2 separate regions of the Homo sapiens genome follow, and region 1 is linked to region 2. The links come from fine-mapping of genetic effects on gene expression. A gene starts in region 2. The other region holds a variant in brackets. All regions are shown on one strand. Distances are from middle to middle.

The links. PIP is the estimated chance that this variant, and not a neighbour inherited with it, causes the effect.
Region 1: its variant is the best candidate, but not a certain one, in a credible set for the expression of C16orf82 in tibial nerve (GTEx, PIP 0.63).

What each region holds. Positions count from the first base shown.
Region 1 is chr16:26,972,719-26,978,094 of GRCh38, reverse strand. No RefSeq gene overlaps it. Among named protein-coding and RNA genes, the nearest start is that of C16orf82, 92 kb to the left of the region's middle. The variant A/C (reference allele first, on the strand shown) is at 3,136.
Region 2 is chr16:27,064,732-27,070,107 of GRCh38, reverse strand. It overlaps C16orf82 (chromosome 16 open reading frame 82), which reads right to left and starts at 3,181. Exons shown (of 1, transcript NM_001145545.2): 1 at 942-3,181. The coding sequence starts at 3,112. The coding sequence ends at 2,648.

The DNA.
Region 1 (5,376 bases), 92 kb after region 2:
GCCTGCGTGGGGTTAAGGGAGTCCCACACAAGAAGATGATGTTTTCTGGGACTAGCAACGATGGTGAGCTATTAACTACCTGTAGGCCTGAGACTGGGAGGGAAGGTTTAGCAAAACCTAAGGATGCTGCAGGCAATGGAGAGTCATCCAAGAGGACTTGTGGTTCCCTTTCCCTTTCCTTCTTTCTTTCTTTCTTTCTTTCTTTCTTTCTTTCTTTCTTTCTTTCTTTCTTTCTTTCTTTCTTTCTTTTCTTTCTTTTCTTTCTTTCTTTTTTTTTTTTTTTGACAGAGTCTTACTCTGTTGCCCAGGCTGGAGTGCAGTGGTGTGATCTCAGCTCAATGCAACCTCCACCTCCTGGGTTAAAGCAATTCTCCTGCCTCAGTCTCCTGAGTAGCTGGGAATTACAGGTGCATACCACCACACCTGGCTAATTTTTGTATTTTTAGTAGAGACAGGGTTCTGCCATGTTGGCCAGGCTGGTCTCCAACTCCTGAGCTCAAGTGATCCACCCGCCTTGACCTCCCAAAGTGCTGGGATTATAAGCGTGAGCCCCAGCACCCGATGTGGACCTGTGGTTTCCATTGAAGAAGTGCAGCCATACCAGTCTATGGCCTAACAGTGAGAATGAATACTCTGACCTCTCTTCTCCTGCCCTCTGATCTCTGGTGAGCATCTCACATCAGTTGAACCCAACCCGAAGCTAGAAGGTGAGGGAGCTCATTGACGTAAACTACAGAAGCTCTCCTCCTGGGGCATCAAGCAGGTGGGAAAGGATGGAGTGAGTCTGGAGGGACAAACAAAACTTTTGTCCCAAGACCTGTGACAGCGACCTGCTGTCCCCCAGGTGGGCTTGTGATCCAGGTGCTGACTTGAGCACAACCCTTGAAGATGTCACTTTGGGAGGTACAGACTGGGAGAGCAGTCTGCACTGCAGAGTCCAGCAGAGGGAGAAGCATCATCAGTAACACAGGCAAACAATGCCAACGATATTCACATGCCCATGTCCCCGTGGCCTGACCCCAGCTGGCCACTCCTCCCAGGGTGAGAACAATGATCAGACATACTCTGTCACTTGTCACTAGCCTAACCTCCCGACATCAACTCCCCAGGGACAAGGGAGCAGCATCTAGAACACAGTGGATAATTATTCTTCAAATGAATTGAGCTATCGGGGGCATCCTGGCTGAATCAATCAAAGCAGGTGGGGGCAGATTTCACAGAGCCAAGAGGCCATGGCAGCTCTTTGTGATAGATTCGTGTAAGAGGCCTCTTTTGCCACCACCCAACATTCATAAGCGATGCCTCCTCTCCATGTCGTTCAGCCATTTCCCATGCCAAATGAAGATAAATGTCAGAGGAGCAAATAGCCTTCAAATTGCTATTGAAAATATTTTGGAAAAGCCATGAAATGCCAAGCCTTTCTCCTTCTCATAAAGATTCTATTTATCTTCTGAGAAATGTTCCCCACCCTCCTGAGAAGCTAAATATGACTCAGTGAGGTTGGGAGTTAGTGCCTATGTGCTATTTCTTTCTTTCATTTTTTTTGAGACAGAGTCTCTCTCTGTTCCCTAGGCTGGAGTGCAGTGGCGTGATCTCGGCTCACTGCAACCTCTGCCTCCTGGGTTCAAGTGGTTCTCCTGCCTCAGCCTCCTGAGTAGCTGGGATTACAGGCACGCTCCACCATGCCCAGCTAAATTTGTATTTTTAGTGGAGACGGGGTTTCACCATGTTGGCCAGAATGGTCTGGATCTCTTGACCTTGTGATCCGTCCACCTCGGCCTCCCAAAGTGCTGGGAGCTCCACCCCGCCCAGCCCCAAGTGGTATTTCTAAGGAGGTGGCAATGCCTAAGTGGTGCTCCTTCCAACTGCGTGAATTTCCATTCCGTCAGCGTAAACTGACCAGCCAATGCCGTGCTTCCAAGGAGATTACTTCATTCAGTGTTTATTGAACACCTAGCTGGTGCCAGCCAATTACGTTCAGCACTTGGAACATGGCAGCAGACCAAATAGACAATGTTCTTATTCTCATAGAGCTTACCTTTTAGCATGTAGTGTGTGCAGAAACAGACTATAAAGAATAGATGTCAGGCCGGGCGCGGTGGCTCACGCCTGTAATCTCAGCACTTTGGGAGGCCGAGGCAGACAGATCACGAGGTCAGGAGATCGAGACCATCCTGGCCAACATGGCGAAACCCCATCTCTACTAAAAATACAAAAAAAAAAAAAAAAAAAAATTAGCCATGTATGGTGATGCGCGCACTCACCTGTAGTCCCAGCTACTCGGGAGGCTGAGGTAGGGGAATCACTTGAACCCGGGAGGCGGAGGTTGCAGTGAGCTGAGATCGCGCCACTGCACTCCAGCCTGGCAACAGAGTGAGACTCTGTCTCTAAATAAATAAATAAATACAATAAAAAATAAGAATAAATGTCAAGGCAGATGGTGATAAATGCTATGAAACCAAAGTACAGCAGAGCAGGCAGTGAGGGGTTAGAGGGCTATTTTAGATAGGGCAGTAAGAGAGGGTGTCCTTGTAACATTTAGACAGAGACAAAAGGGAAGTGAAGGAAGCAAAGCAGATATTTGAGGAATAGGGTTACAGACCGAAGGAACAGTCTGTGCAAAGGCTTCAAACATGGGTGGCCCTAGGGGGTTTGAATGGCAGCAAGAAAACCACAAGAATGGGAAAGTGATAGGAGCTAAGATCAGAGAGAGAGCTCAGAACTCATCACGGAGGAAATGTTAGGCTGTGGTTGAATTTCAAACTTTAATTTGAGTGAGACTGGGAGTTATTGGAGTGTTTTGAGCAGAGCTGTTGTGTAGTCGGATTATTCTGGCTGCTGGACTGTCATAGACTGTTGGAGGCCAAGGGTGGAAACAGTAATAGGAGTCAGGAGCTGGGGCATTCTGGGTGAGAGATGACAGTGGCTTGGTCCGCAGTGTAATGTCACAGGTAGTAATGGTAGAATCCTGGATATGTTTTGCTGATGGAGCTGATGGGATTTGCTGGTGGATTGGATGGATGGATGGATGGGCATGAGAGAAAGAGGAGTAAGAGATAACTCTAAGATTTTTGGTCTGAGAAACTGGTAAAGTGGAGGTGTTGGTTAGCGAGAATGGGAGACCTAGTTTGGAGA[A/C]GAAAATAAAGAGTTCAGCTTTGGCCAAGTTAAAGTTCGAGATGTTGGCCAGGTGTTGTGGCTCATGCCTGTGATCCCAACACTTTGGGAGGCAGAGGCGGGAGGATTGCTTGAGTCCGGAAGTTCAAGACCAGCCTGGGCAATATGGCAAAACCCTGTCTTTACAAAAAATACAAAAATTAGCCAGGCGTGGTGGCATGCACATGTAGTCCTAGCTACTCAGGAGACAGAAGTGGGAGAATCACCTGAGCCCAGGGAAATTGAGGCTGCAGTGAGCTGTGATTATACCACTGTACTCCAGCCTGGAAGACAGGGTGAGACCTTGTCTCCAAAAACAAAGTTTGAGATGTCTGCTGATGGCCAAGCAATGCTGCTGAGTAGGCAGTTGGATATTGGAGAGGTTGGGGTGTCAGGTGCACAGATAGTGTTGAGACCCACTGGGATCAACACTGTTTGGGATAAGTCAGGGAGGCAGAAAATTTGTTCAACCAATTTTCTTCAGAATTACCCTATGCACAACCTTTATGCATGCATTGGGACACAGCTCATGGCCTTGTATGTAAGACGGATGAGTAACTGGACAGTCTCAATCCAGTGTGATGAGCGTAGCTATGGAGGAACTCAGGGAGAGGCACCCGACTTGGTCTTGGGATGCAGACAAGACATCCTGGAGGAAATGAAATTTACATCAATACTTAAAAGAGACAAGGAACTAATATTTACTTAGTACAATCAGCCTTGGTATCCAGTATCCATGGGTTCCACATGCATGAATTCAACCAACTGTGGACTGAAAATATTTGAAAAAACTTGCATCTGTCTTGAACATGTACAGACTTTTTCTTTGTCCTTATTGCTAAACAATATGGTATAAAAACAACTTCCAGACCATCTACATTGTATTAGGTATTATAAGTAACCTGGAGATGACTTAACATATATGAGAGGATGAGCATAGGTTTATATGTAAATATTAATACTATGCCATTTTATATAAAGGTCTTGAACATCCGCAGATTTTGGTATCCACAGGAGGTCCTAGAACCAATTCCCCATGGATCCTGAGGAATGACCTCAGTATCCAGGTACTGTTTCAAGCACTTTGTATTAGTCATTCTTAAACTTTCCTGGATATTTATATCACTTGGGAAGAATTTAAAAATCCCAATGCCTGGGCCTAACCTCAGACCAATTAAATCAGAAACCTGGGTATGAAACTCAGGCATCAGTGTTTTCCAAAAGCTTTCCAATATTTCCAACATTCAGCCAGGTGTGAAGATCAATGCTATACTTGTGTTTGCTCATAGAATTCTCTGAACTACATCTCACGGGGAAGGTACCACTATTGCTAATATCTCCATTTTACAGAAGGGAAAACCAAGGCACAGTGGAGTCATACACTTGCTCAAGCTCATGAAACTTGTGATTGACGGAACTGGATGAGATGTCTGGATCCAGAGTCCACTTTCGTAGCCACTATTCCATCATGTGTTTCAAGAAAGGCCAGATGGGGCATTCATCAGAAGGATGTCATAGGAAAGAGTGTGTTCCAGATGGCGGGGTTAGTTGGACATTGGTAGAATATAAATAGATTAATGCAATGAGTATACAAGGAGTATAGAATATGCATATTATTTCATTCATTCATTCATCATTCATTTAACAAGTATTTGTTATGCATCTACCCTGTGCCAGGCACACAGCTAGACCCTGAGGAGGTTGCTGGGGAGCAAAGACTCATAAAATTCATAATCCAGTAGGGGAATAAGTAGAGGTTAAATAAGTAATCACAAAATGAATTGTATTTACTCCTTGTATTTGCTCATGGAATTCTCTGAACCACACCACATGGGGGAGGTACTGTGATTGGTAAATGTCATCCCCATTTTACAGATGGGGAAACTAAGGCAGTAATCCCAAATGATTGAGCAATAATCCAAAATGGATTGGATATATATGTATATGTGCAGTCTCTGTGTGTGTGTGTGTTTGTGTGTGTGTGTGTGTAAAATTGCAATCGTTTTGGGAAAGAACTACCTGGTGCTGTGAGAGACTTTGTCATAGACAAGTCAAGGAAGGATGAGTTACCAGGGTGCAGACATAATCCTCACATGCAAAAGAGGAAACTGAGGCCCAAGAGATTAAGTCATGTGCCCAAAGTCTCACATCTGATAATTAGACCAAATTGGAATTTGAACCCAGGTGAGTCAAATTCTAACATGTTTCTTCTACAGCAATGAT
Region 2 (5,376 bases):
AAAAGGGGTGCTTATATTTGAGAAGCAGAGACTCGCCACACCAGACATGTGGCACCCTCACACCCAGAACCAGCAACTCCTTCCTCAAACCACAACTCTCTGCCAAAACATCTTACCTCCCAGCAGATACAGTGGCTCTTTTTTCTTTGCTTTGGTCAATAGCTTTTTCTCCATTATTAGCAGTGACTAGCCTTTCTGTGCCTGTGAGTGAAGCAAGACAGAAACCATTGTGCCCATTTTACCCATAAGCAAGAAAAATGATACACCATGGAATATTATGCAGCTATAAAAAAAAGAGATCATGCCCTTTGCAGGGACAGGGATGGAGGTGGAGGCCATTATCCTTAGTAAACTAAGGCAGGAACAGAAAACCAAATACCGCATATTCTCACTTAGAAGTGGGAGCTAAATGATGAGAACACATAGACACATAGAGGGGAACAACACACACTGGGGTCTATCGGAGGGTGGGGAGTGGGAGGAGGGAGAAGATCAGGAAAAATAACTAATGGATACTACACTTAATGCCTGGGTTATAAAATAATCTGTATAACAAACCCCCATGACACACATTCTCCTCTGTAACAAACCTGCACATCCTGTACATGTGCCCCTGAACTTAAAAGTTAAAAAATAAAAAGGAAAAAAAAAAGAAAAGGGAAAGAAATACATTACATTAGTACTTATCCCTTGCTGGGTACTTGATATACATTTTCATGTAATCCACATAACCATCCTATGTATGAAATAGGGGTTACTGTCCCCATTTCCCAGATGAGGAAACTGAGGCTCTGAAAGTTTAACTATTTTGCCCAGATGGCCAGCACAGCAGTGGCAGAGTTGGTAGCCATGCCCAACTCTCTCCATGGTTCTTTAGTGTGTTTGTGGCCCACCCCTCCTGTGAGCTCGGCCGGGAACGCACACACAGACCCACACACATATGACCTCTCTAGACACCTTTTATTGTCTTTGCTGCCCCCTCAGCTTTCCTTCTGGTACCTAGTGGATGTCTTCACGACAGTCTCTGGCCTCTTTTCCTTTGTGGGCAGACTCACTTCAATGTCTGTGAGGTCAACCCAGGGAGGGGGTTTAGTGCCTCCAGTAAGAGACGGGCAGAGACTTCGGCTTTCCCATCCACCGAGACGGTGCTCACAAAATGCTCCAGAGCTTCCCCATCGCAGCTGTTCCCGGCTGGGTTGGGCTCTGTCACCATGAAGTGCTTCTCACGGCATTGTCCTGCCATCGTAGTCACTGTCTCAACCATCTGAACACAGGATGGCTCCTGGCCTCCTTTCTTGACATGAATGAGGCATCAGGAAGCCTTTGCTCCTGAGAAGATTCTGGGCTGAAGATGTCCAGAGACAGCACTCAAAGGAAAAAAAAAAAAAAAAGGACGCTTGGAGCTCTCTGGGATGGTGCCTCCCAAGTAGTTGGGATTACAGGTGCCCAGGCATGGGGATCCATTTACACCGCCCTCTAATGTTCTCACTAGACCTAGTCCCTGTGTGCCGGGGGCATCCCTGGCTGCTCCTGATGATCCTTCTCTGGTGACAGTCACTTAGTCTGGACTCCTTGGGGGAGCTGAGAGTCGTGAAGGTGCTCCGTGTGCACCGTGGCTGTCTTGCTAGTGCTTCTGCGGGCAGTGACAATGATGGACAGAGTGTGGTGCTGCTTGGCCAGGATGAAGTTTCATGTGGATGTGGCTCTCCACGCATGGCGCTCACTGCAGATGGTTCTTGATATGGACAGTCCCAACCATGGTTGCAGCTTGTTTCTTCTGAGCTCATCGTGGCTGGTGTTGGTTGCAGATGGCATTCATCATTTAGGATGGTTTCATCATGGAAGGTTCTAACTCGTGACAGTTCTTAATATCGTCAGCGTTTGCCATCGAGAACATCTGTCGCCACTGATGAGTTTTGGTACAGGGGGTCCCACCAGGATGCTGCTGACTACAGATGGTTTTGCCATTGATGGATCTTGTTATAGATGGCTTGTCACTGAAGTTCACAGTCGATGTCATTACTCTTCGCTGTTTTGACACAGGTGGACTCAGCATTGGTGAATCTTGATACTACAGCTCTTCCTAGCAACAGTGGTTCTCAGTATAGACAGTCTCCTCACTGACTGTGTTCTCAGGATAGGCGGTGCTCAGCATAGATCCTTCCTGCTACATGTGGCCTGCCCACTGATGCTTGTTGCTACAAATGGGATTACCCACTGATGGTTGACACAGTCAGTGTGTGCTTTTGAAAACACCTTTCCTACTTGTTTTGGGAATATCCACTCTGGGTGCAGCCTGTGTTTGCTGGGCCTGTGTGTTGTTTTCTGGGAGACTCTGGCTGCTGGAGAGGATTCTCACAAAGGCATGCACACCTGGGCAGGCTGCTCCCCCGTGGTGACCTGCTCACTGGTTTTCACGTTGCCGCCCGTCTTGTCCTCCTGCACGCTGGTGTGGCTGCTCTGCCTGTTTTGGGCACTGCCATCCAGCCGGACGCTCTGACGGCTGCTGGCCTGGGTGGAGGGAAGGCTGGCTGTGGAAGTCAGCAGCCCGCTGCTCACCTTGTAGGTGAGGGCACTGCTGCCCAAGCTGATGAAGCTGGCGCTGGACAGGATGCTGCTGCCGCTGCCGCTGCCGGGCAGGCTGGCCTCACTCTTTCCCTCCAGTCTGCTTGGTGCTGTGGGCGGGGCCAGTCAGCCGGCTCTTTAGAGAGCTGGGAGGGTCTATGGAGCCCAGCTGGCTGGTTTGGTTACTGGCCGCCTGGGTGTTGAGCCTTCTGTTCAGCCGCACTCTCCGGTGGCTGCCCACCAAGCTGATGTCGCTGCCCTCCTTGTCCCCTGCGTACCCGCTGCTCAGGCTGGCATGGCTGCCCTCCTCTGGCCTCGGGTGCTGCACGCTGGAAACATGACTCTCGCTGCTCTGGGTGTCACTGAGGTAGCTGCTGGACACTTTCAGGGGCTCCTGAGCCACTCCTGCATGGCGTGGCCACGCAGGGGACTGGAGCTCTAAGCTGGGTGACTGTAGGCTTGGCTCTCCTTCCTGCTCATTCTGGACAGAGGATTCCCCTTTTTCTCCCTCGAGAAAAATGGGGGGCAGCTGAAGTGGTTTATCCAGGGAGAGGGGGCCCTGGGAGGCCTCTGAATGTTGGCTGTGACCTCTCTGGGGAGAGGTGACTCCGTATATAAGGCTGCCCTTTGAAAACTCTGTGTTCTGAGTGGCTGGCTCAGTTCCCATGGTGATGGGGCTTGTGAGGTGAAGGCGGGTGTGGGAGGGAGAACAATGCTGTCCTGGCACCAGTGACATCAGTGGCCTGGCCTGGAGGGTAGGAGTGGGGCAGAAAGGGGCTCATGGCCAGAGGGGGTGGGTGTCACCCTCTCGGGAGCCTTTCTGAGGAGTCTGTGGCCAGACATCAGGTCAGGGGCCTCAGGCGTGTGTCCCAGCCGAGATCCTATGAGCCGAGTTTCTTCTCTCCCAAGTCTCTGCCTGCTTGCTGAGTGTTTCATTTTTTTATTTTTATTTATTTTTTATTTTCTGTTTGTTTGTTTTTTGAGATGGAGTCTCACTCTGTCATCCAGGCCGGAGTACAGTAGTGAGATCTGGGCTCACTCCAAGCTCTGCCTCCCGGGTTCAAGCGATTCTCCTGCCTCAGCCTCACAAGTAGCTGGGATTACAGGCGCCCGCCACCATGCCTGGCTAATTTTTGTATTTTTAGTAGAGATGGGGTTTCACCATGTTGCCTAGGATGATCTTCAACTCCTGACCTGGAGCTATCTGCTCGCCTCGGCCTCCCAAAGTGCTGGGATTATAGGCGTAAGCCACCGCACCCGGCCTGCTGAGTGGTTTTGAGGACAGGAGGGAATACAGCAGGCCGGATCATCAAGGCCCTGGCCTGGTCTGGCTCTCCCAACTTCATCACACACCACGCCCTGCCCCTTTCTCACCTTGGATGCTTGACCAGGCTGAGCACTCTCTTATTGCAAAAGGGACTCACAGCTGGATGCCCTGGACCCCAACACTATGAAACTGGGTTTCTGAGAAAAGCTTTTTATTGCAAGTTGGCTCAGAAGGAGGCAGGAGTCAGCTCAAATCTCTCTCCCTGTGCTGGCTTTAAGGCAGTAGTTTTATTAGAAAAGGTTTAGGGAGTGGATTCTGAGATTAGTAGGTTATTGGTGCAAGGAGAAGTGAGGTCTGCAAAGACCTTTGGCATGTGCAGTTACCTCTTCATGCCTCCTCATGGGTCCCATGTGCAAATTTGGAGGGAGTGAGTGTGAAACATGCAGTGGAAATTCAGGCTGTGACATCAGCAAGCTGGTCTTGCACTAACTCCAGTTGGCCATATTGCTTCCAGCTGATTGCAGCTGGTTTTGTTATAAGTGAAAGGAGTTTCAAATTGTTTCTTTTTTTATTTGCCTTCCTGCAAATTCAAGAATTTCTGTTAGTGGTTTCTTTAGCTCTTTGGAGCATGGTCTCATGATTTCATGATTTGATGCTCTTACCTGCTGCAGGGCCTTGGCACTGGCTGTTTTCACCCCTCAGGGTGCTTTTTTCCCCTCTGGCATCCTCTTTTTTTTTTGAGACAGAGTGATCTCGGCTCACTGCAAGCTCCACTCTTGTTACCCAGGCTGGAGTGCAATGGCATGCCTCCCTGCCTCAGCCTCCCGAGTGGCTGAGATTACAGGCATGCGCCACCACGCCCAGCTAATTTTGTATTTTCAGTAGAGACGATTTCTCCATGTTGGTCAGGCTGGTCTCAAACTCCCGACCTCAGGTGATCCGCCCGCCTCAGTCTCCCAAAGTGCTGGGATTACAGCCTGGCCTCCCCCACTCCCACTTTTTTTTTTGAGACAGAGTCTCACTCTGTTGCCCAGGCTGGAGTGCAATGGCATAATTTCCACTCACTGCAACCTCCGCCTCCCAGGTTCAAGCAATTCTCCTGCCTCAGCCTCCTGAGTAGTTGGGATTATGGGCATGTGCCACCTCAGCCAGATAATCTTTGTATTTTTAGTAGAGATGGAATTTCACCATGTTGGCCAGGCTGGTCTCGAACTTGCCTCGGCCTCCTGAAGTGCTGGGATTACAGGCGTGAGGCACTGCACCTGGCCCCTGCTGTCATCCTTTATGCCACTTCCTAATTGATGTTCCTTGTGACATGAATGAATTATGTACTGGTTATTTATTGCCAGGTCCTCAGCCAGAATATAAACTTAATGAGGGCAGAGATTCTGATTTCTTATTCTCTGCTCTGCCCTCAAGGCCCAGCACACTGCCTGATGCTCACTAGACGTTGATTTAGTGAATAAATGAATGACCCCGAGGTGTGCATCACCACCTAGGGAACTTCTAAAAAACATGTTTTAATTTTCTTTTTTTTTCACTTG